4 separate regions of the Homo sapiens genome follow, and all the other regions are reported to be linked to region 1. The links are microRNA targets in miRTarBase. Many come from high-throughput screens and were not tested one by one. Region 1 holds a microRNA gene; each other region holds the end of a gene's coding sequence.
The links. The annotated mature microRNA hsa-miR-4278 reads CUAGGGGGUUUGCCCUUG and lies in region 1 at 3,985-4,002, shown strand. An mRNA with a match to its seed (bases 2 to 7 or 8) in the 3' UTR can be bound and repressed. Matches are read on the target gene's strand: a 7mer-m8 pairs with bases 2 to 8, a 7mer-A1 pairs with bases 2 to 7 and ends in A, and an 8mer does both.

Region 1 (7,115 bases):
TGTCCTATTCCAGCCTTCAGCTGGTGGGATGAGGCTCACCCACATTAGGGAGGGAATCTGATTTACTCAGAGTGCACCTGTTTAAATGTTTACCTCATTCAAAAAACACCAAACACAGAAACATCCACAGCCATGTTTGACCAAATATCTGGGCACTGGGACCCAACTAAGTTGACACATGAAATTAACCATCACATACTTAGTTAGAAATAAGGGTGATTATGATGGGGAGTTCGAGGGTGTGACTGACCTCCAGGAGATCTGAGAGGGCCAGGGACCTTGGCATCCTCCAGGAGACCCAGAATGAGCCTGCAACAATATTTAATTGCATTTCAGCTCATTGAAAACTGGCTCAAAGAGAACAAAATGATGGCAAAGGGTGTTTCATCGTCTGAGGTGTGTGCATATCATTTTACCATTTTGTCATGTTATGGGGTTGGGGGGAGGTGTGTAAACCTGCCCTTGCTGGCAAATGGAAGTTCAAAGACAGTGGGCATAATTTTCTTGCCTTGGAGATCAAGGAATTATGTGTTGAGTGTATGGAGTCACAAGATGGAAGCTCCCAGAGTCTTCTGTCTATGCAAGTGAGGAAGCAATTGTTGCTGTATTAAGCCACTGAGATTTCAAGACATAGCCTATTTTGTTATGACTCAGACACTGTGCAAGCTGTGTGTGCATGAATGTGCCTGTGTGTGCATGCATGTGTGTGTGCATGGTGGTGCATGTGAGAGTGTTCCTGTATGTGCATGCATGTGTGTGTGCATGGTGCATGCAAGTGTGAGAGTGTGCCTGTGTGTGCATGGTGTGTGCACGTGTGAGAGTGTGCCTGTATGTGCGTGCATGTGTGTGTGCATGGTGCGTGCACGTGTGAGAGTGTGCCTGTGTGTGCGTGCATGTGTGTTTGCATGGTGCATGCATGTGTAAGAATGTGTCTGTGTGTGCGTGTGCATGTGTGCATGCATGGTGCATGCATGTGTGAGTGTGCCTGCATGTGCATGCGTGTGTGTGCACATGGTGCGTACATGAGTGTCTGTGTGTGTGTGTGCATGTGTGTGCATGGTGCGTGCACGTGTGTATGTGTGCATGCGTGTGTGCATGGTGCGTGCATGTGTGAGTGTGTGTGTGCGTGCTTGTGTGTGCATGATGCGTGCATGTGTGTGTCTGTGCGTGCATGTGTGTGCATGGTGCATGCATGTGTGTGTGTGCATGCATGTGTGCATGGTGCATGCAGGTGTGTGTCTGTGTGTGCATGCATGCGTGCATGGTGCATGCATGTGTGTCTGTGTGTGCGTGCATGTGTGTGTGTGCATGGTGCATGCATGTGTGTGCATGCCCGTGTGCACATGCGAGTGTCCGTGTGTACATGTATCTGATTATGGAAAGTCTACCTGAAAACCTGTGCGCTAGAGCTTAGCCAGAACCACTTCATACAATGATTCTAATGCTAGGGAAAAACCCATTTGCTGTCATTTTGGTTCTCTTTGAGCCAGTTTAATGAGCTGAAATATAATGAAGTTTTGTTATGGGCTTATCTGGGGTCTCCTGGAGGGTGCCAAGGGTCCTTTCTTACTCTGGGCTCCCTGGAGTTCAGTCACACCAACTGAGGAGCCCATCCTCTCTGGCTCTAGCGTGCCTGGGTCCCTTCTTTGGGGAATTCTCTTCCTAATCCATTTGTCCGTGGGACTGGCAGTTACCTCTCCCTGGTATTGTGTTGAGTTCATAACAGGCTGAGGAAATAGCACCAGAGCACCCATAGCACTCACTCTCGGAGGGCATTTGACCACCACTGGGAGGTCACTGGAGCAGCTCCCTGGACTTTTCCCTGGAGTTGGATGGGAAGGCGAGCTTACTCTCATGATTTGACCTACCAGCTTCTAGGGTAGGGCTGTCAGAAGCAACTTTTACCACCTGAACATTGTTTCATTGTAGTGAGGAACAATGAGACTGACCTGAAAAGCAGAATGGAGATGGCAGAGACATGAGGTGGCAAGGGATGGAGGGGGCATCCTGAGGACAGTGCTTTAGTCTCTGGGCTCAGCTCTTGGGACACTCACCTTGGTCGTCCCACTTAGGCGAGCTTCAGTTAGTCAATGTTGGGTTTCTGTCACTTGCCAGGAGCCTTGGCATTTAAGGCAGAATTTGTTTACTCTTAAATTAAGCAGCTCTACAAGTTTCATTTCATTTCATTGCTCATGATTTTCATCCCAGTTTCACTTCATTGCTCTGCTCTCTCAGGATGAGTCGTTGGCAGGGGAGAACTCTCCTTTCTGTAGTGGAATGAGTCAGTGTGGTGCCTGGATTGGCCCAACCGAGTGTGGGAGCAGATGCTCTCACTTGGACTGTACATCATCTTGAGTAGGTCAGTCAGCCTCCTGTGCCTCAGTTTCTCTATGTCCACAATGAGAATGTTAGCACCTTTCTCCTAGGTTCATCGTGTTGACTAGCTGGGCTAGTGTTCTAAAGCCCTTCAAACAGTTCCAGACACACAGTCAGTTCTGCTTCATTAGTAGCTGCTATCATTATGGTTTCCACGACAACATGCCATCTGACCCTATTTATGCCATCCTCCCTGGCCTGGGAGCCAAGGTCACGGTAGAACACCTGATGAGTCATGCCTAAGTTTTTGGCATCTTTAACCAAGACAGAGATCAGTAATCAAAAGTAAAAGTATTCAGTAAAACAGATGAATCCACATACCATTTTTGAATGTTGAAATATGTTCATCAGAACAACTTTAAAGGTAAATTGGGTCGAGAGCATGATTTAGTACAAAGGTCAGTAAAGTATGGCCCATGGGTCAAATCCAGCTGTCACCTGTTTTTATAGAACCCATGAGCTAAGAATCATTCTTACACTGTTAAATGGTTGAAAAAAAAAATCAAAAGAATGTTAACATTTTGTGACATGTGAAAATTATGTGAAATTGACATGTGCATATGCATGAAGTGTATTAGAACACAGCTGCCCCCTCTGCTTGCATCTCGTCTCTTGCTGCTTTTGGGCTACGATGGCAGAGCTGGGTTGAATTGTGGCCCACGGTGCAGAAAATATTTACTTTCCGCCCCTTTTACAGAAATGTTTGTTAACCACAATTTAACTCTTTTTAGCTTAATTCTTAATTTTCCTTTGTCCCTCTAAAATTTCAGACTTTCAGGAATTGAGGGGTAAACTTGAAACACGGGTTTGTAAGTGAGGACACTACAGCGCTGGCTTCATATAAGACATACAGGCAAACTCATGATCCTCACTCATTTCATTTCAGATGAAAACTGCTTTCCAGTGACAATCAGAAGGGGAAAGGTTGAACTGTCATTTTTCTGAGAAAAATAACATGGAATAAAAGGGCCTACATTCTCTTTCCTACATTCTCATCATTCTACAGTTATTTGGGGTTTTTATCTCTCCCACTTGATGTATATATTCATAAAACCTCAGGAAGAAACATGATCAAAAGTAAAACTGAAAGGAAAAAAACATAAAAATGTTCCTTGGTTTTGTTATGTTTTCGTCAAACTCAACGTTTAGTGAGTTGTTTTTATTTTCCTTTCCAATTGTATTTATAGGCTTCGCTCTTCTCCCTGATTTTTTTTTTTTTTTGCCTTTTTGCAAAACATTCCCTGGAGGAACAGCATGAATCAAGACAAGCTCTTTATCTTCTGCTGATTTATATAAAAATAGACAGCATGCATGGGCTTTTGCATGCTGTTTCATGAAATGCTCTTGTTTTTATCATTGTAAACTTCTGGGGCTCTGAAAAAATGATAAGGAAACGAGTCCTATCATCACCTCCCGAGAGTCAGCATTTGTTTCAGTTTCTCCATGTGATCTGTGATGCAGAGGTCTGGCTCTCCTGTGGGTGGGGCTTAGAGAAGAACCTCTGTGATACACAGGAGTGAAACGTTACTTAGCAGATGCAGCCTCACGTTTCCGTGATACTGTAATCATCTAACACCAGGAGAATCCCATAGAACATTGACATCAACACTAGGGGGTTTGCCCTTGTGGGGAAGAATCTAAGGTAACATCATGAGGACTCTAATAAATGCAATGGTGTTTAATTATGGTTTAGGGCTCTGACATGATGCAGAGCCCATTATGGACAAGTCTCTGGCTGAAAGTCCCTGCAAGAGGGATGGATTCTCAGAAAGCAATTTGTCATCATCGTTTTGCCCTTGGAAGTGAAACCCAAGAGCAACTGGGATTCCCCCGGTGCTCTCCTGGAGCGTCTTGGCCCCATTCTGTTCTCTTCCAGCATCTTTCATCTCCCATCTTCCCTCCTTCAGGGGCTCATTTTCAGAATTTTCCATTGAAATCCCTCACGTTTGTCACTTGAAGGAGTAACCTTCATTTATATGTAACATTCAATTAAGTAAACACTCATTGCATAAAAGAGGCTTTACTGTGTGCACAGATTTGATTAGGAGCAATTACGACTTTGTGTCATTCATATGAATAAGCTAACTTAAGCCGAAATGTTAACAGGAGGGAATGACTTCCCCATCTCCCTCCTCCTCCATAAACATTTCCCATTTAGTGAGGATTCCATCATCCCAGACAGAAGCAGCCCAGACAAAACAGAGGCGACATATCTCCACACTGCAGTCTCAAGGCTGGTAGAGGAGGACAGAAACTGGAGAAAGAAGGCCAAGAGCAGCAGCTGAGCTCAGAGAAAACCCAATACCTGCAGAGAGATGCCTTTCTGTGGAGAAAAGAGAAAGTCATAACCAGAAATACACTCAGGGAACAATGCTCAATCCTTGGTTTCCAAAGGGTGAGAGCAGCTCAGGCAGGATCCGCAGGCTCCAAAGCTGGGGTTATACAGGTGGAGGGTGTGGCCTCAAGAGGCAGCCTCAGCCGGGGGCACCCTGGTAGGATGGGCATGGTGGGGAGGGCCTGGGGTCAGAGCTGGTTCAGTCTGGGTATGGATATGACCAAGTGGCCAGTGGGAAAAGCCGCCAAAAGCATTCACAGTGGGAACACATGATCCTAAGAGCATAGCAATTCCAGGCTCACCGACTAGCAGGCTTGGAGCTGCAGGTCTTCTGCCTGCCCCATCGATTATGTCCAGGGCCTCCAAAGATGGATGGGGGTGCCAGCAGCCCCGAGTTCCATTCTGGGCATCACACTTTAAATGTGGTAAAAACGAATTCACAACAAAGGCTTAGATCAAGGAGGCCGACGGAACAAGATGCTACTCCTTCCCCTCTCTCATCCCCAACTTCCTAGAAAAGACAAAGAGAAAACACCTTCAAAATCAGAGCAAGTCCATTAGAGGCCTATGATGTGAGAAAGAAATCACTTCAATGATGAGATCTGTGGGTTGTTTGTGACATCAGCCTGTGTTAGTTACCCTAATAAGAACTTAGTGACTGGAAACAAGGTATTTGATTTTTTAAAAAATAATAAAACCTAAACTACATAGTATTATTCTAGCAGCTGGGTGTCAGGAGGTAAGACAAATGATATTTAAGACTGGAAAATTGGATCAACACTTTCTTGCAGCAAAATATTTAGTGAAACTTTTGCCTTTTATTTCTTGGAGCATAGGTCACACGCCAGAGGCTTTTGTCATTCTGGAGAAGAGCAGAGGTTAGTAGCATGCGCTGTGAAAGCTCCACTTGGAAAACCATCACAAGAAAGAGATGCATTCAGAAAGGGAGGGCCAGAGTGCAGTCAGCAATGTTAAGGAAGAGAGTCCAGAAATTCTCCACTCGGCACGGTTGCAGTGGAAAGAACCGGCATGCTAAGGCATTACTGAGATGAAAGTGGCCCAGCTTACAGCAACTTGTCCATCAGCAAGAAATACAGGTGTTAAAGCACTGAAACTTTAAGACTGTTACGCCACTCACATGAATTACACTGACTCAATTTTCTATATATGTACTAGTCACAGCAAGTAGAAAGTGCAATAGGGGAAAAAAGATCCCAGTCACAGTAACGAGAGGAACAGAAAGCCTAGACATGCAGCTGACAAGAAATGTGCAAGATCTGTATCCAAACACCTGTGGAGGTTCCCAAGGTTCCCAAACTTGATCTGCATATTCGATGCAATCCTGACCAAAATTACAACAGTATGTTTTTAGAACCTGACACACTGATTCCCACATTCATCTGGCAGAGTAAATAAATGCAAAAAAAAAAAAACTAATAAATTCTGATTTAAAACACACAATTAAGGGAAATAGGCCAGATATCAAAACATATTGTCTTGTTATAGAAATTTACATAATGTGTTTATGGAGGAAAGGACAAATCAATAGAACTAAACAGAAAATCTAGACATATCACTAAGGTGGCATTTTTTAATCAGTGTGGAAAAATGCTTTCCTCCATGTATTCAATGGTTTTCAAGTAACTGGCCATCCATTAAGGAGAAATATAAAATTAGATATACCATGGCCAAAAGTAAATTCTAAATGATTTTGAAAGAATGGAAGAAAATATCAAAATAGCTTCATAATCTTATAATGGGGAAGGATTCTCTGAGCTAGAATTTTGTAAATATAGAATATTTTGTAAATATAGAATTTTGTAAATTCTAGCTCACAAAATTCAGAAGTCAAAGGAAACACTACATGAACATTTAAAACATGCCTGTGACCAAAGAACACCATAAAAAAAGGGAAAATTAGAAAAATAAGAGAAAATATTTGCAACATATACCATAGGCTAAAGATTGATATTCAGGGTATATGTTTAAGAATCGCCAACTACTCAAGAAGATGAAAACAACCCAAGAGGGAAACGAGTAACATGATGAACCAGTGAAAAAGAATGAATTCTGATAGTATGTTCTGACATGTTAAGGTTTTGAAGATTGTTAGAAAAATCATGAAGGGAACATGTAAAGTAGAATCCTGTTTACATTTTACAGTTGTGTGTGTGAGTGTGTATGGATGTGTTCATGTGTCTGTGTGTGTGAGGGCATTAGTAAGTGCGTGTGAGTGTGCGTGTAAGTACATGTGAAGGCACAGAAAAGGATCTAGAGAGATACAGGCATGATTGTTAATAGTGGCTCCTTCTAGGGAGGAAACTGTCAGGGGTCACTTAAAGGAGTAAATGGCATTTATGGTTTATTCTAAAGTCCCTATATTATTTTTAATTGCATAGAGAAT
Region 2 (7,115 bases), not on the chromosome of region 1:
CCTGGGTTTTTTAGTTTCTGAAGAAGTGGAGTGGGAAGCTGGCCTGTTTGATGGGCCCTGGGGCTGTCCCACCCCGCCTTGCCACCCCCTCCCCGCCTCAGTGTCAGCTCACCTACTGGTTCCCTCCCAGCTACAAGCCAGCCCCCTTCTTCGTCCTGGATGAGATTGATGCTGCCTTGGATAACACCAACATTGGCAAGGTGGGTGCAAAGAAAGTGGGGCCTGGGAGGGATGCCCCCAGGTCGGGGTTGGGTTTCAGGGAGCAACTCCTGAGCGTGCCCTAGCCGTTCCTGCTGCCTGCTCTCTGTGCCTGGGAGGCTGGGCCCAGAGTCATCCATGCTGTGGTAGTCAGTAGTCTCCTCTCAACCTCTCTTTTCCCCACCTTCCTCTCCCTACCCTACCTCTTCTGCCTTCTGGTTGTGGCTGGAAAATACTGGGGACTGTTAAGGTTTGAGCCTTGCTAAGTGCCTGGCGGCCTTTCCCACAGGTGGCAAATTACATCAAGGAGCAGTCGACTTGCAACTTCCAGGCCATCGTCATCTCTCTCAAGGAGGAGTTCTACACCAAGGCCGAGAGCCTCATTGGAGTCTATCCTGAGGTAGGGCGGGCCTGGCTCAGGAGCCAGTCCTACTCCCTGCCTGATTTCCCAGGGCAGGAAAGGAAGGCTGCAGTGGAGGGGAAAGGAGGTGGGGGAGCATAGGGAATCAGGTCCTGAATGGCCATTTGGGCTTGTTGGAGCCCTGCCTCTGGAGGCTTAGCCAGCCCAGCCAGGCAGGGCCATTGCATTTGGGGACAGGTGGAAAGGCAGGCAGAGGCAGCCAGACAGTGGAGAAAGGAGGAGAGTACAGAAGTAGGCAAGGAGCGAAGGCACATGGGACTGAGCATATCCTCTCACACCCAGAGAGAACCATTGACTGGGCTTTGGGCAGGTATGTAGGGAGGAGGGTTTGAGGCCCCTGGTCCTGGGGCACTAGACCCCTCTTAATTCTCTCCTTACAATTTTATTTTTCTTTTTCTCCCTCCTCCTTCAGCAAGGGGACTGTGTGATCAGCAAAGTCCTGACCTTCGACCTCACCAAGTACCCAGATGCCAACCCCAACCCCAATGAGCAGTAGCAGTATTTTTGCCCTCCCGCCCTGTCTGGATCCCTAAGCTGTCCCTCTCCCAATCTCTGGATATTTGACTCCCAACCTTCCCCCTACCTCCTGGCCCTTTTTGGTGTAGTCATGGGATTTAGGCACTGCTAATCAAGCATGAAGAGGAACAGAGGTGATGTTAGGTCTGGAGCAAAAATTCCTGAACGACAGGGAGTATTCTGGCCTCTGAAAGGAGGTGCTGAGCTGAACAGGGCCATCTGTTCATCACACACACCCCCTTCCTCCCCCTCATCACCCATAATCGTGGGCCCCTTGGGCCTCTTGCCCACTGTGTGTGTGGGTATGTATGTGTGTATGTATGTATCCGCATGTGTGCATGTGAGTATGTTTGCAAAATAATAAAGGATATTGGAGACCTGTTTTAGAAGGAGCCTAGGCTGAATTTGATTCCAAGAGAGCTTAGGATGACAGCACCCCTGAGCTGGGCAAAGGTACTCAGGACCTCATAGGAGTCTTAGGCAGTTACCTGAAACTGCCTTCATTCACTCATTTGTGTATTCATTCATTTATGTATTCATCAGACACATACCGAACACCCTCTATTTGTCAGGCTCTGTGCTTGGAATACAGAGTTGAATCAGACATGATCTCTACCCTCCTAGTAAGGAGATACAGTGGGTTCATGAATGACTATAGTTAGCTGAATGTCATATGTACTTTGAATTTGAGAAGTGGGTGATCCCCTCTAGGCTTCCTGGAGGTCACATTTAAGCTAGACCTTGACAAATTGGTAGGATTTGGTCAGGCACTAGGAGTGGAGCATGAGCTCTGGGGACAGACAGTTATGGGTTCTGGTCCCACTTTTTATCACTTACTAGTTGTTTGACCTTGGGCAAGTCATTTGACCTTCTGTGCCTCAGTTTCCTCATCTGTAAAATGGGGCTAACAATATTACCTACCTCATAGGATTTAATGATGTCAAGCTCCTCACTGGAGGCCTTATCCCTTCGTGGAGCCCACTAGGTGCCGACCCCTCAGAATATAACCCTCATGCCTGGACCCCTGAGAGCTTCTGATCCCAGCTATTAGGGACAGAAGAAGCCTCCAAATCTGGAAGGTGCTGAATGCCCTGCTGACTGGGAAAGTTTCAGGGCACTGATGGGGTCTACCTGGTAAGCGGAGGGCCTGAGGAAACCTGTAGCTTCAATCATGTCTGGTAACCGGGTGCCTGAGCCCCAATCTGGGTTGTGAGGAAATAGGGGAGAGGTATCCTGGGCCACATCCCAGCCTAACACCTGTGAGGTTCATTTTAGGAACTAACCTCATTAGCTATAAGGATCATGCAGAGGCAGCAAAGCCGGGTGCGATGAGCTCAGCCTTTACTCATTCACATACACCATCACACTTTAATTCCAATCTGTATATTGCTTTTTAAAAGTTAAGTCCATTCTAATTACCCAAATATGCATGAATTCATTCTCCTTTTGAGAAGTTAGATTGTTAAAGATAGTCTCATTCAGCTACCAACCACTCCTTGATCCTTCCCTTCTTAGTGGCTGTTGTTTGTTGTACTTCCGTTTAGACTTTGTTTTAATGCTTGTACGTACATATGTGAACTCATTGGAAATATTGTGTGTTTAATGCAAATGATATATTGAATTGTTTAGCAATTTGTTTTCTTTGCTTAACGATGTTTTTGAGATCTGTGCATGTTACTTAATGTAGCTCAATCCATCTTCTGTAATTGCTGTATAGATTGTCATCATATGATTACCACATTTTACTTACGCATTTCTTTTGTGATGGACATTAAGACTGTTTTTAGGTTTTGCTATTACAAAATACTACACAGGAGCATCACTATGCCTGTGTGAAAGTATATGTATGAAAGTTTACCTAGGGTTGATTCCTAGAAGTGGAATTGCAAAGTCATAGGATATTTATATATTGGTTTTTAATAATACTTCCAAATTGCCCTCCTGTACTATTTACTCAGTATTTTTCTTGAGGTTGATCTGAGGTCTAACATTGTTATCCTATATCATTTTCATCCCAAGTAGTGATATCTGTGAAATCACAGGTTTGATGTGTGCTAATTATGTATTCTTCTAATACATATTAAAAGACATAACTATCAAAACAAAATAAATTTGTCTGTTTTCAACCAAAGAAGTCACGTACCACTGGTGGTACTGTGTGCCATAATTTGGCAAATGCTGGCCTTTATGGACGAGCACAATTCGGGGGTCAGACCTGGTTCAAATTCTAGCTGTAGAAACTTGTGCAAGTTACTTCACCTCTGAGCCTAAGTTTCCACATCTGTAAAAGGAGATAATAAACACCTACCTTGCAGTAGTGAAGCAAAGAGAAAATTAAATATATATGAAGCAATTTGGCTGGCATCTAGATCATTCACAGCCCTTTAAAGGTCACCTTTGCTGTTCTCCCCACTTTACAGATAAGGAAACTGAGGCCCAAAAAGGTTTGAACCCAGGTCTTCCAAGTCATTCAAGTGCTTTCTCCACTGTACAGGTGGTTATCAACCTTGGCTGCGCATCAGAATCGTTTGTAAAGCTTTTTCTTTTTCCTTTTTAAAAAGTAAAGCAATATATACACAGGTAAAAAAATAAAATAGTACAGAAGGGCTTATAATGAGAAGCAGCAGTTCCCTGCTTGCACCCCCACATCCAAAGGATGTGGAGCTCTTTAAAAATAAATTGCTCTGGTCCCACCTCTGGAAATCTGATTCAGCCAGCATGGATAATAACCCAGATAACTAACCCCTACCTCACAGGATAAAAAGGATTACATGAGATGCCTTAGGCTAAGGCCCTGGCACACAGGAACACATGTGCTACAAAGGAGCTTTGGGGACTTAAGTCCTGAGGATCCAGGAGGTGAGGTGACTTGTCCAAGATTCCACTGGTTTAGTGGCAGAGCCTAGACTTCCACTCGGATCTATTTAGTGCTTGCCCCCTGCTCTCTCCTGTCGTGCCCCACCACCTCCTGGCATCACAGGGCAACCGTTGTCAAGGCTATGCTCACGGGAGGCTGGGCACCACAGTGTTTCCAAGAGCAAGCTGGATCCGAGTAGATTCCCTAGGGCTTGTTGGAGGAACTAGTTTGACTCCCTTATACTGTGGACGCAGTAGCCTTGCTGTAGGGAGTTGAAGAGTACTCCACAACAGTATCTTAAGTTTAACTGGGCACTTCCCTCTGGAAATCACAGTGTTGTGCACCAGGAACACAAAGATGAGTCAAATCTTTATCCTGCCTTTGAGGAGCTCACTGTTTAGTTGGGGAAACCATTTGTAAAACAGCCATTAACCATACAGTGTGATCAACACTGACAGGAGCACAGGAAAAACATCTAGCTTATGTGAAGATTCAGAGAAGGCATCCTGTAGTCTAGGTGGTGATACCTGAACTGAGTCTTGAGGGACGGGTAGGAATTAGCCAGTTGAGGAAGTAGAAGGAATTTCCAGATATTGGAAACAGTATGCATGAAGACATGAAGGCAAGAAACAGCAAAACAAATACTGAAGCATGAAGATTCCTGGGGTGGGGGGAAAGCAGCAAGAAAAGGTAGAGAGGAACCAGATTGGAAGAGGGTCGTAAATGCATGGCTACAGAATTCAGATTTGTTTTGTAGGACAGTGTGGTTCCCAAACTGGCTGTATACCACAAACAGGTACGGCATTCTGGGCCCCGGCCCCTAAAACATTCATTAAGTCTGGGGTGAAGATTTGGAATCTTGAATGCTTATAAAGGTTACCACATGACTAGGGTACAGCCAGATTTGGAAACCATAGCTTGAAGGCAGTGAGGGAGCCATGAAATGGTTTTTAATAGGGGGACTCCAGATCAGATGTGAACTTAACCTGTTTCTGGCTGGCTAGCCAACCAGCATGGAAAACAGATTAGGTTAGATGTTCATGCTGTATGTGCCCGTGCCTGTAGCTTCCCTGTTAATCAGCTTCTTACACTACTATATTTGCTTATTTTGTCTCTGAATAAGCTTTAGGCACCACAAGGGTGGGCCTGGGGATATTTTGCTTACCAGTATAGCCCCTGCAAAAAAGCACAGTGCCTGACACAAAACAGGCACCCAGTAAAGTTTTTGAATGAATGAATGCATGAGTGAATCCATTTGTGAGAGAGCGAATGGAGATGACAAGATTAGCTAGGAGACTGGAAAAAGACCAGGAGGCCTGCACTAGGGCAAAGGCCAGTAGGAATAGATTGGAGGTGTTAAGGTGTGAACTGTTAAGGTAAGATGATAACTTAATGACTGATTATTGGATGTGGAGGGTGACTGAGAGGATAGAATGAGTACCCATGAATAGCCATGATTCCTACCCTGTCCCAGTCATCTCTTTCCTTATCCATCTCTGAAACAATCTGCTTACATCCTCCTCAGCAACTGGAATTCCTCAAGTTAGTTAGACATTCTGTGTGCTGTGTGGTCTCTCACTGCCCCCCCACTCCCCACCCCTCCACAAGCCATTGATTCATTCATCCAGTTCAATAAATCTTGGCTAAGCACCTCCAGTGTGCAGTAAGGCTCTTCCAAGCCAGGACTCTGACTCCCTCTTTCCTACCTCAAGAGATGTTTTTGAGGGCTTTCCCAGGTAAGAGTCACATCTCTTATACAATAACTTATAGTGAGATACCCAGAATGTCAGACTTGTAAGGGAAGACTGCCCAAACCCCTTCTGAGGTCCTCAGAGGGGAATTAACTTCCTAAGGTCCGACTGCTAGGAAGTGTTGGAGCCAGAAATGGAAGCTAGGTTTCCTTTCTATGTCATCTCTGGAGTCTTGATCTTGATCTATCCCATTGTAGATCAGGACAGGCAGAGGTGGTCAGGGAGAAGGTGGGACTTAGGTTGAACCTTGAAGGTCAATGTATTGGACAGGTCAAACAAGATGGTTGCCAATTACACTGCCCCCTTCTGGAAACCCTTAGCAAACCTGCCATGCTTGCAGTCCCTTCTAAGGGGTTTCCTTAGCATAAGTTGCCATGCTCTGTACCATGTGACCTCACAATCCTGGCCACAGATAGCTAGATGTGGATAGTGTCTGGTTCAAGGGCAACCAATCTCTAGGCTGGCCAGTGGCCTGTTAGCTGGACTGGCATAAGGACTTCACCTTACAGGGGTGGCATGTATCAAATGGCAAATGTATGAAACAACCAGATCTTTCAGGGAGGCAGAATGTGAGCTATTCAGAAGAAGTGAACGTTAATTAGAATTTAATGAGGCATTAGTGGTGGTGGATGAGGGGTGGCCAGAAACTAAACAGCAAAAGCAAAGAGAAAGCTGCAGAAACCATAAGTAAGCAGAGGTCATGAGACATTTGTATAATGAGATCACGGAGCCACAGGGTGGCAGAAGCCATGAAGCAGCAAGGCAACAATGGGCTAGAAGCCATGAAGCAATAGGAGCCACGAGGAACAGAAACCGTGAGACAAAACTGACTATGAGATCCACAAAGCAGCAGAAGGCTTGAATAGATAAGATCATGAGACAGTAGAAGCGATGAGACTGCAAGAACCACAAGGTAGCCAGAACCATGTGGCAACATGGCAACAGGAATGGAAGAGGCAGCAGGAGCTACAATGCAGAAAAGCCATGGATTAATAGGAACTGAAGCGCCGGGAGCCATGAAGCTGCAGGACCCATGAGGCAGAAAAAGCCATGGGCTAGCATCGAGGGGGGCAGAAAGAAGTTAGTCAGTAGCAGTAGGAGGAGTATAAATACAGCCAGAAAGGAGTTGAGTCACCAATTTGGGAAGCACTAGAGAAGGGAGCAACAGATGCCTGCAGCTGAGGGGGTGACAAGATAAGCCAGGCTCTAGAGCTGCTTTGGATCATGAACCATTTTCAAGTTTCTGTTCTTCCATGAGGCTGCCTGTGTAGCTGTTCTTGTCTTCCTTATTTCCCTGTGAATGCTTTAATAAATCCCCATCACTAACCTGTGTGTGTCTTTGTTCCTTGGAATCTAAAAGGTTAACACTGGT
Region 3 (7,115 bases), not on the chromosome of region 1:
CTGGTCCCTCTGCCACGTGTGCCTTCTCTGCTCCTAGCTTGTCCCTTCTCACCCTTTTGGCATCTGGTGACTCCTCATTTTGGGGACCTGGCCTATCCAGATGTCAGCAGGAGGCTCCATAGTCATGTGCAGCTAAGGGCTCTGCTGCGCTTTGCTTAGGTCTGTGACAGCTCCAGACACTTGAGGTCATTGTGTATTTGTGCCTTTCTCCACTGGGCACTTTTGCTTGGGAGGAGCATGTGATACAGGCAGCCTTCATTTGACTTAGGTTGGAAACACTTCCTTTTATCTGCCTTTGATTTGACCCCAGCAGTTTGGCCTACAGGGCTCATTTCTCTGGCCATGTGATTCCTTTTCTCTTTGTATCAGGTTCAACGCCCTCTAGATCGCCTGTTCTCCTCTATTGTCACCGTTGCTGAACAAAAGTATCAGTCTACCTTGTGGTAAGTTTCCTTATCATAGGAGAGGAGGCTTGGGGTGGGGCGGAGAGTGGGCATTCTGCCCACACATCCAGCATTGTCCTAGGAGGGTTGGGTAGATGGTATATGTGGGCAGTGGCATCCCTGGATGGTGACCCCTTACTCAGTCTTGTCAGAATCTGCCAAGGATGTGTAGAGTCAGGCCTCATAGCCCTGCACCCTGCCCCTCACCTTATTGCCCTCTGTCTGCTCAGGGACAAGTCCAAGAAACTGGCGGAGCAGGCTGCAGCCATCGTCTGTCTGCGGAGCCAGGGCCTCCCTGAGGGTCGGCTGGGTGAGGAGAGCCCTTCCTTGCACAAGCGAAAGAGGGAGGCTCCTGACCAAGACCCTGGGGGCCCCAGAGCTCAGGAGCTAGCACAACCTGGGGATCTGTGCAAGAAGCCCTTTGTGGCCTTGGGAAGTGGTGAAGAAAGCCCCCTGGAAGGCTGGTGACTACTCTTCCTGCCTTAGTCACCCCTCCATGGGCCTGGTGCTAAGGTGGCTGTGGATGCCACAGCATGAACCAGATGCCGTTGAACAGTTTGCTGGTCTTGCCTGGCAGAAGTTAGATGTCCTGGCAGGGGCCATCAGCCTAGAGCATGGACCAGGGGCCGCCCAGGGGTGGATCCTGGCCCCTTTGGTGGATCTGAGTGACAGGGTCAAGTTCTCTTTGAAAACAGGAGCTTTTCAGGTGGTAACTCCCCAACCTGACATTGGTACTGTGCAATAAAGACACCCCCTACCCTCACCCACGGCTGGCTGCTTCAGCCTTGGGCATCTTCATAAATGGGCTTGTGTCCTGGCATGATTCTACTCCCACCCTCTGTGCAGAGCTTGAGCTTTCCAAAGTGGATCTCCTGCCCATCTCTGTGGGTCTGGTAGAGGTGGGGAATGGGGTATCACTGGACTTGGGCCAAGTTAGGAAGGCCCAAGAAGCCCATTCTACTGATGGTACACCTGACACACTGGGCATCAATTGTATGTCCTGATGAGAGGTGATATGGAATCTGGAAGAAAGACTAGGGTAACTGGTGCTGCAGTAAGGGACTAGTCCAGTGGGGTGGGGAGTGTTGGTCTGATCCCCAGAGTCTCCAAGCCTGACAGCTGCCTGGAGTCTCAGACCTGATGAGGTGCCTGCTTTGGACAGTGGGGCACTGGAGGCGGCTGATGACAGCAATTTGGGGCCCTTATGTTTGGCAGATCACACCACACAGTCCCTCCCGTCCCCCGCCTTCCTCATCCCACTTGGGGCGGAAGGAAGTGGCAGATTCTCTTTAATTTCCTCCTGGCAGTGAGAAGCAAACAAACGGCTACCGCATCTCATGGGGCCTCCCCCGCTTACTGGGAGGGGCGTTCTGACCAAAGGTCCCTGCCCTGTCCTGCCCCCGCTTCCTCAGCTGTAAACATGCTGCTTCTCCTCCCTTTTTCCAGGCTCCATTGGGGAGTGGGGAGGGGAGGAGTCCCCTCTGGGTCAAAGCTGTATTTCCCACATCTCCCCTGTGTCAGAGCTTTACTGTTTTGTGGCAACTTTAACACAGGGTCAGGCACCTGTGCCAGCCAGCAGCCTCTGGCCCTGCTGGCCTCTGAGTCTAGGGTTTGGTGGGTGAGGCCTCTGTCTCAGTTCCAGCACCGCCCCCCTCCCCCCTGCCACCCACGCTTGCTTTTCTGTGTGCAGATAAGGATACCGCACTACCCACTGCCTCCCAGAGCTCATTGCTGTTTGACCTTGGGCAACTCACTTCTAGTCCTCTCTGTCCTGAGGGCCCTCCTCTTAGAGGGGATCCGCTGTCCTCTGCCTGTGTGAGGCTGGCTGGAGGACAGTAGGCTGGCCCTTTGATAGGACTCTGCATGGTTAATGGGGTCATTCCATGCCAGGCTGCCCTAACTGACTTCCCAGACCAGTGCTCCCCGAGAAAGGGCTCCACTCAGGAGAAAGACTGAGGCTTGGTCCAGTCTCAGCCACCAAGCTTTAGGCACAATTTATTTCTGATTTTTCTTCTTTTTTTTTTTCATAGAGATAGAGTCTTGCTATGTTGGCCAGGTTGATCTTGAATGCTTGGCCTCAAGCAGTCCTCCCGCCTCACCCTCCCAAAGTGCTGGGATTACAGGCATGAGCTACTGCGCCTGGCCTATTTCTGATTTTTCGTACTAAAAACAATCTCAATCAAAATGCCTCCTTTGGCTGGGTATGGTGGCTCACACCTGTAATCCCAGCACTTTGGGAGGCCGAGGTGGGTAGATCACTTGAGCTTGGGAGTTCAAGACCAGCCTGCTGGGCAATGTGCCAAAACCCTGTCTACAAAAAAATATAAAAATTAGCCAGGTGTGGCCGGGTGCGGTGCCTTACGCCTGTAATCCCAGCACTTTGGGAGGCCGAGATGGGCGGATCACGAGGTCAGGAGATCAAGACCATCCTGGCTAACATGGTGAAACCCTGTCTCTACTAAAATTACAAAAAATTAGCTGGGCCTGTTGGCGGGCACCTGTAATCCCAGCTACTTGGGAGACTGAGGCAGGAGAATGGCATGAACCCGGGAGGCGGAGCTTGCAGTGAGCCAAGATCATGCCACTGCACTCCAGCCTGGGCGACAAAGTGAGACTCTGTCTCGAAAAAAAAAAAAAATTAGCCGGGTGTGGTGGCACGTGCCTATAGTCCTAGCTACTCAGGAGGCTGAGGTGGGTGGATCACTTGAGCCCAGGAGGTTGAAGCTGCAGTGAGCCATGATGGCACTACTGTGTTTCAGCCTGGGCAACAGAGCAAGACCCTGTCTCAAAAAAACAACAACAAAAAACAAAAATGCCCCCTTTGCCTTTTCTTATACTCCAACTGGAACTGGTCAGACAGAGGCTGCAGTGCTGCCCGCCCCCACCAAGTCACTGAGTCCTAAGACCTACCTCCCCAGTGGAACTGGGCTTTGATCTCAGGCCACTTCTCCCACCAGTATGGTTTCCCTGGGGGAAGCCCCTCCTCTGGCAGGGTCAGGTTCATTTCTGGGCTCTGGGGAAGGAGAGGCAGGGATTCAGGTCTGCTATTAAGATAGAGGCTGTAATGTGGGGGCTTTGAGGGCCCTGGGAAGCACTGGGGAGAGAATCCTTTACAGGGGAGGAAGGTGGGGTGGGTCTACTATATATTCTGTGACTGAGGATGTCTGGCAGAGATCCTGGTTGGATATGTTAATCCTCAAATGATCTCACTTTAGCATACCTCAGTGTTGCCTTTCCTGGTCTCAAAGTGACCTGCCCAAGGATGGGACTGACTGGGGGGTGGAGGGGGACAGTCAGGCCTGAAAGCTCTGCCCATTGTTCTCACCATGTCCACCTTAAACTGGGCCACTTAGACTCCCAAACCTCTCCCTGGGCTAGTAGCCACAACACTTATCCATCCATTCCAGCCAGCCTGATTGAGGATTTCCCCTTAGATCATCACATTTGGGGGACAAATGGTTTTGATATGAGCATGAGAGGAAGGGATGAGTAAGGCTGGAGAGGGTGGCAGGTCTCTCAAAGGCCACAGCAAGAAGACTGGGCTGTGTGCAAAGAATCTCTTCCACCCTCAGTTCTGGATACTTGGGTCCTTCCAGTTTACTCTGCTCAGAACTCTTCCATGGGTCTCTTAAGTCTGCTCTCTGGACCAAGTCCAAACTCCTCAGCCTGGCATTTGAGGACAAAGTGCTGACCCTGTCTTCTCAGCACCCTGTGCTGACTTCAGCAACTAACTTTCTGAGATTGTAGTTGGCTGGTCTTATCCTCTCCTCCCAGATTGGGAGCTGCTCAAGGGCAGTCCTTGTGTCCCCTGTGGCTACCTTGGCATGGGTCTGGGGAGCAGGCACAGAAGAATCAAACCAGAGCTTGGGATGAGGGGGATGTTTGGCATGGAGAGGAAGAACTTTTCTAAACTCTGAATTTCCTCAGAGGCTCCTGTTTTGCCTAATGGGGAACAAGGGACTGGGGCAGGCTAAACTGTACCATCCCATGGCTCAGAGGGCACTGAAGAACTTCAACAATGGGTGCTTGGGAACAGTCCTGTGGCAGCTGATGATAATGATGGCTTTCCCTAATTCCCAGTCTTGGGTGGCATTCATACAGGAGAGAGTGGTTGTACAGTGACCCACATAGCCCTTGTCCACCCTGGGGTTCCACCTACTGCACTGGTCCTGTGGGCCTCCTGGTTTCACAGGGCTCTCAGAGGGCTGAAGGTGGGTCCAGATGACCTGCAGGAGCTTTGGAACTGCCTGAAGAAGAGCTCATGGGGGTACATACTGGCCCTAGCTGGGGCAAAGGGCTGAAAGAGTATGTACATATCGGTGTATGTGTGTGGTCAGGCCCCTTCACAGGCTGCAGAGTTCCCAGCCGTTGCTGACTTTCTTACACACATGGTGACTCTCTTCCTGCAGTTGGTGCCCATCCCTGTCCCAGCCCTCACCATTCCTTGGTGAGATCAGAAACCCTCCCTACAATGTAATCTGTTCTAAGTGTTCTCCAGGTGCTCAGTGGCTGGGAAGACAGATGCATAGCTGAGCATTTGATGAGTGGTTGAATTTTTCAAGCCATCTACAGCTTCTCTGTGGTCCCTTCCCAGTGGAGGGGCTGACCAGCCCAGGGTCTCCCTCCTGCCTGCTGTCTGGTCTGACTATGGCTGATCCCATGATTTAGGTGAAGTCATGTCTGGAGGGACTTCAGATGAGCTGGCCAAGCCTCTGGGACCTTATACTGTATCAGGATCCTGTTACATGTGGTACAAATAGGTGGGCCAGCAACCTGCCTGAGGCAGAGGGCTCTAGAGCTGATGTGGCATTTGGGCCCCAAGTTCCACACTCAGGCCCTCAAGGTTGGAGATTTGCAGGCAGGACAGGTTATTGGGAAGGATAGTCCACCCGTCTAATGCCAGTTGTTCCCTCTCCTTGACCACATTATCTTCTCCCTCTGACTTCATTCACCCCTGTCCCAGTTGAATCTAGTGATCCATCCAGAATTCTGACCATGTAAATCCCCTGCTCTAAGTCCTTCCACTGCTCCCTACTGCCGTCAGGATAAAGTCCAGACACTTTGCAGTGGCCTGCAGCATTCTGCCCACTCATCCGGCCCCACCTTAGGCTTCTGCCCACTGCAGGTTACTTTATGGTTATCAAGTCTTTGGAAATCTGTTCTCTGCCTGGAATGAAACTTGCTCACTTCTTGTCTGTCACTCCGGTTCCTACTAACCCCTGTCAAGGCCCTGCAGCTAGCAGGCTTATGAACTGTCTCTGAGCTCCTGGCACAACCCTCATCTCTTTGTACAGTAATTATAGATTTGCTGGTCCCCTCTCCCCTACCCCTGAAGGGAGACTTTATCTCTGAATCCCCAGGAACAGCACAGGTACCGGTACAAAACACTGGGCAGAAATGAAGCAATACAAGATGAACGTCTTGGATGCCCTGGACATTCCCTGTCTTCCTGACCCAAGGTCTAGTTTGGCTCCCTCTAGGGCTCCCTGGTAGCTCAAGTGTCAGTCCAGACATTGAGACCTCGGCAAAGAGCTTCCCTTTACCCTCTCTTCCCACTGGCCTTTGTGGGCGGTGTGGAATGTGCTGTAGGCCTTGCGAGAGCGGCATTTCTTTTTTTTTTTTCTCTCTTTTTTTTTAACCTATTGTAGCCTCTGAGAGGGCAGCATTTTTGGGCGCACCTGCACCCAAGCCTCTGACAGTGCCCTGGGTTCCTCCAGCAACGCGCATCTAGGGATGCTATGCCCTGTGGGCCCTATGCCCGGGGCACGGAGCTAGGGGAGGCGGTCACCCTACTTCTCTCACGTCCCTGTCCACCTTGCGCCTCAGCGGAGCCTTAGGTAAACAAGCCAGGCTCCCAGTCCCCAAGGACGGCCTTCACCCCAGACCCCAGGAGGAGGCGTCTTGGGCCATCTCGGGAAGGCTAGCTTGCTCGGGAGGGGCAGATCACGAAAACGGTTCTTTAGGCAGTGTCACTTCCTCTCCACTGCCAGCCACCCAATTTAGGCGGCTCCATCCCTCCCGCTTTCATGGATATGCAGCAGGATGCAGAGAGCACAGAGCTGTGATTGGCACGAGCTCACAACGGGCTTTCCCGCTCAATCTACTCAACTTCCAGCAAGGGACAGGCCCTGCCCATTGGGGTTCGCTGAGGCCTCAAACGCGCATGCTGTCAAGGGAGCAGCTGCGGGGGCCCGCTAGTGGGGACAAAGGCGCAGCCACCGGGGCGAAAGCTCCGCCCCGCAGAGGGTGGGCCTGCGGCGACCGCGAGCTCAGAGTCCGGACTTGTCGCGCAATCTGTCTCCTTCGGTTCCACCCCAACCTAGCTGGACTCTCGGTCCGGTCCCTGCCCTCTGGAGACTCAGCCATTAAAGTTGAGGTGGGGGGATGAGGATGTGGGCGGCGTCCAGGTAACTCTGAGGGGCCCTGATGCCTTCCCTAGAGCCAGCCATCAGGAGTAACACGATGCGCCCCCACATCACCGAACCCAGAACCTCAGTGCTTCAGCACCCCTTCCTCGACATGAGCTCCGCCCAATGAGGAGAAGGGTCTTCTGCATTGGCCGGTGGTGGTCCCCTATCCAATTAGAGAGGCTAACGGCCTTCTCTCGTCTGGTTTAGAAGGAATCGCCGGGGGAATACAGGCCAAACTACAATTCCCGAGAGGTAGCTGGGC
Region 4 (7,115 bases), not on the chromosome of region 1:
TCTGTGCGTCATCGCCCCCCACCCCCGGAACCTCTAGCTGTCCAAGCCCCCAGCCCCAACCTCTCTGGCAGGAGATACGGTCGAAGGGGCTGGTGGCAGAGAGGGGCTATCTCTGACGTTGCAGGTCCCCCTCCCATCGCGTTCAAACCTTCCCTTTAAGCGGTGGAGAGAGCTGGAGTTGAGTCACCCCCCCCCCACCTGCGCAACCCCCTCCCCACCTGCTCTGGTCTCGCCCTCCAAACGTCCTTGGGGGAGGGGAGCGGCAGGAGGGAAAGCGACTGGGGGAGTGTGGGAAGAGATGGGCCGAAGGGGGCACAGCGGGGGGCCTTGACACAAGCGGCAGTCAGGGGACAGAAGGACAGACACACCTTTTTCTCCAGACACAGCACGGATCGTGAAACAGACACGACCCAGAGGCACACACATCCTCATTCTTTCCCTTTTCTCTTCCGACTCGGACCCTTCCCGATGGGATTACCAAAACCGCAAGATCCACCCATCTGCCCCTGTCAGGGGGCTGCCACCCGCACTGCCGATTCGCGGACAGCGCCCGCAGGCGTGCAGATCTGTCCCTCTGCACTCAGGTTCACGCCGTCCTTGGGCGCGTGGTCTCGGGGTGGGGAACCCGGCCCCCTGGTCGGCTCTTGAATCTTTATCCTTCCCCTCCCCAGTATTGAGCTCCCACTGGTGCCCAGTCAGACGCTGGGACTACCCTTTTTCTATTCCACTCAGCAACGCGGGCTCCATCCAGCAGCTCCAAGTTGCTCTGCAACCCACCCTCCCGCCTTCCAGCGCCTCTGCATCCACCCTTCCATTCATTCTCCCATTCATTCATTCATCCTTTTCTCCTCGTCCCTCCTTCATTCATTCATAGCCCCCCGCCCTGCCCGCTTCAGCATTTCATTCATTCATTCATTCATTCATTTCCCGGAGCTCCGCTAGCGCACACCCCTTCAGCCGAAGGCCCCAGCGCGCAGGCGCAGGCCGGGAGAGGCAGGCACCCTCCAATCGTCGGGCGTCCTTCCTCCTCCGGGCGGCCGCCCGCTTCCCCATGAATGAACATTGACGTCAATGGGGCGGGGCGCGCCCACGTGACCCCGCGCGCTCCCCTTTATAAGGCGGTGGAGGCGCGGGCGCTGTCCAGCGTGCTGAAGCCGGAGCGAGCTAGCCGCCCGGAGCCGCGCCGACCCAGCTGAGCCCAGCCCACGGGACGCCAGACCTCGACCGTCGCTCCTACCCCGGCCACCGCTCGGAGCCGAGGCGGACGCGTCCCGATCTTCCCCTGTCCCCACCCTGCCCCGACCCTCCTCTCCACCTCTCGCGTCGTGACACCAGCTGGTAAATACTCCGCTGTTCGTCCCTCAAACCCTCGGCAGCCAGCCGTGGGCGTGAGGGAGGGTTCTCTCTCCTCTCGATGGGGGTGTTGCAAACACAGCGGGGAGCCCCCTGGTAAGGGTCCCCGGTAAACGGGGGAGTCGCAGCTTTTTCTCTTGCTGCTGAAGTCGCCCACGCACCATCCGGGGAGTCCTACGGGGAGGGAGCAGAGATTTTTTTTTCCCCCATATTGCTGCTGCTTAGTACGTGGGCGATGGCAGTGAGATGGCTCAGGGAAGGGGCCGAGGAGGCCCTGGGTAAGCGAGGGCTTCGGGGGTTATTTTCCCATTTACACGGCTCCAGAGATCGGCACAACATCTTCCTCCTTTGCTCCTAAACGTTCCTCTTCTGGGTAAGGTTTGGGGGATCAGGGAAGCCCCGGGTTTCCTGCTGAAAGGTGGGGGAAGGGAACGTAGACCTAGAGAGGGGAATTCTTACAGAAATCCTCTTTTTTTGGTCCCTTCTATTTTTCAGTCTCCGGCAGCCTCTTGGTCATGAAAGCCCTCAGATTGTCGGCTTCCGCCCTCTTCTGCCTTCTGCTGATCAACGGGTTAGGGGCAGCACCCCCTGGTCGCCCTGAGGCGCAGCCTCCTCCTCTCAGCTCTGAGCATAAAGAGCCGGTAGCCGGGGACGCAGTGCCCGGGCCAAAGGATGGCAGCGCCCCAGAGGTCCGAGGCGCTCGGAATTCCGAGCCGCAGGACGAGGGAGAGCTTTTCCAGGGCGTGGATCCCCGGGCGCTGGCCGCGGTGCTGCTGCAGGCACTCGACCGTCCCGCCTCACCCCCGGCACCAAGCGGCTCCCAGCAGGGGCCGGAGGAAGAAGCAGCTGAAGCTCTGCTGACCGAGACCGTGCGCAGCCAGACCCACAGCCTCCCGGCGCCGGAGAGCCCGGAGCCCGCGGCTCCGCCTCGCCCTCAGACTCCGGAGAATGGGCCCGAGGCGAGCGATCCCTCCGAGGAGCTCGAGGCGCTAGCGTCCCTGCTCCAGGAACTGCGAGATTTCAGTCCAAGTAGCGCCAAGCGCCAGCAGGAGACGGCGGCAGCAGAGACGGAAACCCGCACGCACACGCTGACCCGAGTGAATCTGGAGAGCCCGGGGCCAGAGCGCGTATGGCGCGCTTCCTGGGGAGAGTTCCAGGCGCGTGTCCCGGAGCGCGCGCCCCTGCCGCCCCCGGCCCCCTCTCAATTCCAGGCGCGTATGCCCGACAGCGGGCCCCTTCCCGAAACCCACAAGTTCGGGGAAGGAGTGTCCTCCCCCAAAACACACCTAGGCGAGGCATTGGCACCCCTGTCCAAGGCGTACCAAGGCGTGGCCGCCCCGTTCCCCAAGGCGCGCCGGCCGGAGAGCGCACTCCTGGGCGGCTCCGAGGCGGGCGAGCGCCTTCTCCAGCAAGGGCTGGCGCAGGTGGAGGCCGGGCGGCGGCAGGCGGAGGCCACGCGGCAGGCCGCGGCGCAGGAAGAGCGGCTGGCCGACCTCGCCTCGGACCTGCTGCTCCAGTATTTGCTGCAGGGCGGGGCCCGGCAGCGCGGCCTCGGGGGTCGGGGGCTGCAGGAGGCGGCGGAGGAGCGAGAGAGTGCAAGGGAGGAGGAGGAGGCGGAGCAGGAGAGACGCGGCGGGGAGGAGAGGGTGGGGGAAGAGGATGAGGAGGCGGCCGAGGCGGAGGCAGAGGCGGAGGAGGCGGAGAGGGCGCGGCAGAACGCGCTCCTGTTCGCGGAGGAGGAGGACGGGGAAGCCGGCGCCGAGGACAAGCGCTCCCAGGAGGAGACGCCGGGCCACCGGCGGAAGGAGGCCGAGGGGACAGAGGAGGGCGGGGAGGAGGAGGACGACGAGGAGATGGATCCGCAGACGATCGACAGCCTCATTGAGCTGTCCACCAAACTCCACCTGCCAGCGGACGACGTGGTCAGCATCATCGAGGAGGTGGAGGAGAAGCGGAAGCGGAAGAAGAACGCCCCTCCCGAGCCCGTGCCGCCCCCCCGTGCCGCCCCCGCCCCCACCCACGTCCGCTCCCCGCAGCCCCCGCCCCCCGCCCCCGCTCCCGCACGAGACGAGCTGCCGGACTGGAACGAGGTGCTCCCGCCCTGGGATCGGGAGGAGGACGAGGTGTACCCGCCAGGGCCGTACCACCCTTTCCCCAACTACATCCGGCCGCGGACACTGCAGCCGCCCTCGGCCTTGCGCCGCCGCCACTACCACCACGCCTTGCCGCCTTCGCGCCACTATCCCGGCCGGGAGGCCCAGGCGCGGCGCGCGCAGGAGGAGGCGGAGGCGGAGGAGCGCCGGCTGCAGGAGCAGGAGGAGCTGGAGAATTACATCGAGCACGTGCTGCTCCGGCGCCCGTGACTGCCCTTCCCGGTCCCGCCCCCGCGCGCCCCCGCCGCGCGCGCGCGCCGGCGCCCCCCTCCGTGTTGCCCGCTCCCCCTCGGTGTTTGCATGCGCCCCGGCCCTGCCCCTTGGCCCTGCCCCTGTCCCCGGGCTGCGTCGGGACCTGCCAGACCCCCCTCCCGGGTCCTGAGCCCGAACTCCCAGAGCTCACCCGCGGGTGACCGGGGGCCAGCCCAGGAGGGCGGGTGGTTTGTGCGAGTTCCCTTGCCACGCGGGGCCCCGGCCCCATCAAGTCCCTCTGGGGACGTCCCCGTCGGAAACCGGAAAAAGCAGTTCCAGTTAATTGTGTGAAGTGTGTCTGTCTCCAGCCCTTCGGGCCTCCCACGAGCCCCTCCAGCCTCTCCAAGTCGCTGTGAATTGACCCCTTCTTTCCTTTCTCTGTTGTAAATACCCCTCACGGAGGAAATAGTTTTGCTAAGAAATAAAAGTGACTATTTTATTAGGACTTTGTTCTCGGTTATTCACCCGTCCCCTTGGGCCTGTGTGGTCCTTCCCAAGGGGCGGTGAGGGAAGCGCCAGCCACAGTCCCCGTCTCCTCCTGCTTCCTGCCCCCAAACTAAGGCAAGGGGTAAGTGGGGAAAGTCCTCAAACTGTTTTTAGAGGAGAAGAATGTGGCTCGCACCCATTAAGAAACCCGAAATTCCACTTCCAGCTTGGGGGCTGGTGGTAAAGTCATCTTTCCCCAGGGCTTGACAGAGAGAGGCCCAGCGGAATGCAATAAAAGAGCCAATTGTCTGCGATCAGTCCAGCGACCTCTGGTTCAAAAGAAAAAGGCGACCCGCAGAAGGTGCCACAACTCTGGGTGCCAGTGGGCTCCTTTTTCCCAAGATCCTGGGGCCGCGCGGGTAATGCCGGAGTTTCCTGTGTTCACCCACCCACCTCCCTCCACTGATCCCTACATTCCTGGTCCTAGGTACTTTGCAAGAAATGCGGGGAGGAGGGAGTGGCAGCCACAGAGACATGCTGGCTAAAGCCACTTCTTAACTTTTTTTTTTTTTTTTTTTTTGAGACAGGGTCTCACTATGTTGCCCAGGCTGGAGTGCAGTGGTGCAATCACAGCTCACTGCAACCTCGACTTCCTGGGCTCAAGTGATCCTCCTACCCCAACCTCCTGAGTAGCTGGGACTACAAGTGTGCACCATTATGCCCAGCTAATGTTTGCATTTTTTGTAGGGATGAGGTTTTGCCAGCTTGCTCAGCTGGTCTGGAACTCCTGGGCTCAAGCGACCTCCCCACCTTGGCCTCCCATCTTAAGCCTTTTCTAATCGCAGGTACTTGTGAACTGATTCAAATAAAACTAAACTGGGCAAACGAAATCACCCACAACAGACCCGCATCCTGAAGAGTTGCTCCTCCTTCCATAAAGGCAGCTCAGGGAGTTGGGGGCAGCCCGTTTGGAGACGCATTGGGCATAAAAATCCGTTTAAGGTAGGGTGGCCAGATAAAATACAGGAAATGAAATCTGAAATTCCAGATACACAACAGATGCAGTTTTAGAGTTAAATGTGTCCCAAACACTGCATGCAACACATTTATCCCTAAAATGATTTGTTGTGTATCTGGAATTCTCATTTAACTGCGTGCTCTCCGTTTCTTCCCAAGGCTGGCAGGATCCCCTTGGCCTCCCGATGATGCCAGCAGCCCTGCCTTCCTTCACAGAGCCCAAGGCCAGCAAAGTCCAGAAATGCTTTTACTTTTATTTCAGAAGAAAGGACATAAAGGCAGACACTTCCCCCTCCCCCTCCCCACCCCTCCCAGCTCCTGCCTCACCCAGAACTGGAGTGAAAGGCCAGGGCCAGGACCAGGGTCCCATAAAGCTTGCCCTTCCCCCAACCCTTCCTTCCCTCAAAGTGGCAAGGTTAGAAAAAAATTAACTATGTTGTTCCTCCCTGGCACTGGATAAAGGCCCCACTGCAGCCAAGGAGAAAGAGGGGGGTCCAGGCTCCCCTCCCAGGCAGAGAAGCTGCCTGGCTGGCTAGGGGGAGGGTGGAGGTAGGTTATGGGACAGAGAGGACAAGAAGTGCCCTGAACACCTTTTCCCTTTAACCTGACATATTTATATATTTACAGTTATTAGGGAGGGAAGGACATCTGGGGTGACATCAGTTCTGCAAAGGCAGGGAATAAAAGCCAAATAGCACCCCCATCTGGGTCACATTTTCCTGCCTCCTAGCTTCTAAAACCTTCAGTGGGAAAAGGGGAAAGTGGAGGTAGGGGGTGGAGGGAGGGAATGTTTGAAGGGCCTGAGCCCACAGCTCACTCCGAAAGGTGAGGCAGCAGAGGAGGGGCAGCCGAGTCCCACCAAGAACAGGGCCCTGGGCAGAGGAGAAGCAGCCGTTCCCGCCACGCTGCCAGGACCCCATCGCCACACCCCGGCCCAGCAGGGGCTATGCCAAACCCATCTCCTCCAGCACACTCCGTGGCGACTCATCCTCCTAAGGCAGAGACAGACAGAGGGTGACGCAGAGACACCAGGAGAGGCCGACAGGGTGGGCAAGACAGCAGTCACGAGGAAGAGTCAGACGGGGGAGGCACAGACACGGGGGAGGGGGAGAGAAGCCAATGTGAGCCCAAGGCCGGACCAGTGAGCCCTTCATGGGGCACCCACCAGCCTCCCAGGGCCAGCCCCAGAGCCAGCCAACAGTGGCAGGGGGGGTCCAGGTTGAGTCCGTCACCACCCAGAGAACCCAAAGCCAGGACCTTGGTAAGCAGGGGCCCCGCCTTGACACCTGGGGGTAAAGGGAGTGAAGCCGGGACAAGGAGGTGGGGGATCTTTCTGGGGCCCTGGGGGGTACAGCTGACTGGGTCCTGTTTTTCAGAGTGGGGAAAAGGCAGAGGGAGGTGAGTGCCAGGTCCCTGAGGGAAGGTGAACCAGGCTGCAGGGAGATGCGTCATTAGGGTCTGAGCGCAACACTGGTGACACGATGGGTGTGTGTGCCAGGGCATGTGTGTGTGTGTGTGTGTGTGCGCGCCAGGGTGTGTGTGTGTGCGTGTGTGGGAAGGTGAAGCTCGACCAGTGAGGTGGCAAGTTCAGTTCTGCCCTCTCTCCCACTGCAAAGATGAGCCCTCCCTCGCCCCCCATCTCTCCCCCTCCTCAGAGCCAGCTCAGGCCGGGCTCGCTCATCACTGCAGATTCCGGTGACTCATCTCCCTGCACCAGGGCTCGGTGATGGCACAGCAGAGAGGGGGCAGGCAGTAATGGGGTGAGGGCGGGGGCGCTGGGGAGCAGGGAGAACCAACATCCAGGTGCCCTCTGCCAGCCCCCAAATCCCCATAGCCTTTTCCTCCTGAGACGCAGAGGCTTTGGAGTATGTGTGTGTTAAAAAAAAAAAAAAGAAAAAAAAAAGAGAGGTGGGG

Region 2: miRTarBase lists SMC1A as a target of hsa-miR-4278. Seed matches in the 3' UTR shown: 7mer-m8 at 1,195-1,201 and 7mer-A1 at 4,810-4,816.
Region 3: the mRNA of DUS2 is a reported target of hsa-miR-4278. Seed matches in the 3' UTR shown: 7mer-m8 at 1,194-1,200.
Region 4: the mRNA of AP1S1 is a reported target of hsa-miR-4278. Seed matches in the 3' UTR shown: 7mer-m8 at 5,970-5,976 and 7mer-m8 at 5,735-5,741.

The regions. Positions count from the first base shown.
Region 1 is chr5:6,824,750-6,831,864 of GRCh38, reverse strand. It overlaps MIR4278 (microRNA 4278), which reads left to right and starts at 3,944; the gene lies at 3,944-4,012. LINC02236 (long intergenic non-protein coding RNA 2236) reads right to left here. Exons shown (of 2, transcript NR_146281.1): 2 at 5,137-5,222. It overlaps LOC105374641 (a long non-coding RNA gene), which reads right to left and starts at 2,102. Exons shown (of 3, transcript XR_925740.3): 1 at 2,055-2,102. RefSeq lists enhancers at 1,036-1,537, 3,735-3,884.
Region 2 is chrX:53,374,103-53,381,217 of GRCh38, reverse strand. It overlaps SMC1A (structural maintenance of chromosomes 1A), which reads left to right. Exons shown (of 25, transcript NM_006306.4): 23 at 131-200; 24 at 488-598; 25 at 1,032-7,069. The coding sequence ends at 1,115. Among named protein-coding and RNA genes, the nearest start is that of MIR6857, 28 kb to the left of the region's middle.
Region 3 is chr16:68,078,076-68,085,190 of GRCh38, forward strand. DUS2 (dihydrouridine synthase 2) reads left to right here. Exons shown (of 17, transcript NM_017803.5): 16 at 370-443; 17 at 674-1,245. The coding sequence ends at 911. Among named protein-coding and RNA genes, the nearest start is that of NFATC3, 3.7 kb to the right of the region's middle. RefSeq lists an enhancer at 6,772-6,851.
Region 4 is chr7:101,159,597-101,166,711 of GRCh38, reverse strand. It overlaps AP1S1 (adaptor related protein complex 1 subunit sigma 1), which reads right to left. Exons shown (of 5, transcript NM_001283.5): 5 at 5,436-6,193. The coding sequence ends at 6,146. It overlaps VGF (VGF nerve growth factor inducible), which reads left to right and starts at 1,143. Exons shown (of 2, transcript NM_003378.4): 1 at 1,143-1,338; 2 at 1,849-4,203. The coding sequence starts at 1,869. The coding sequence ends at 3,716. RefSeq lists silencers at 1,113-1,212, 2,975-3,114, 3,275-3,324, 3,885-3,974.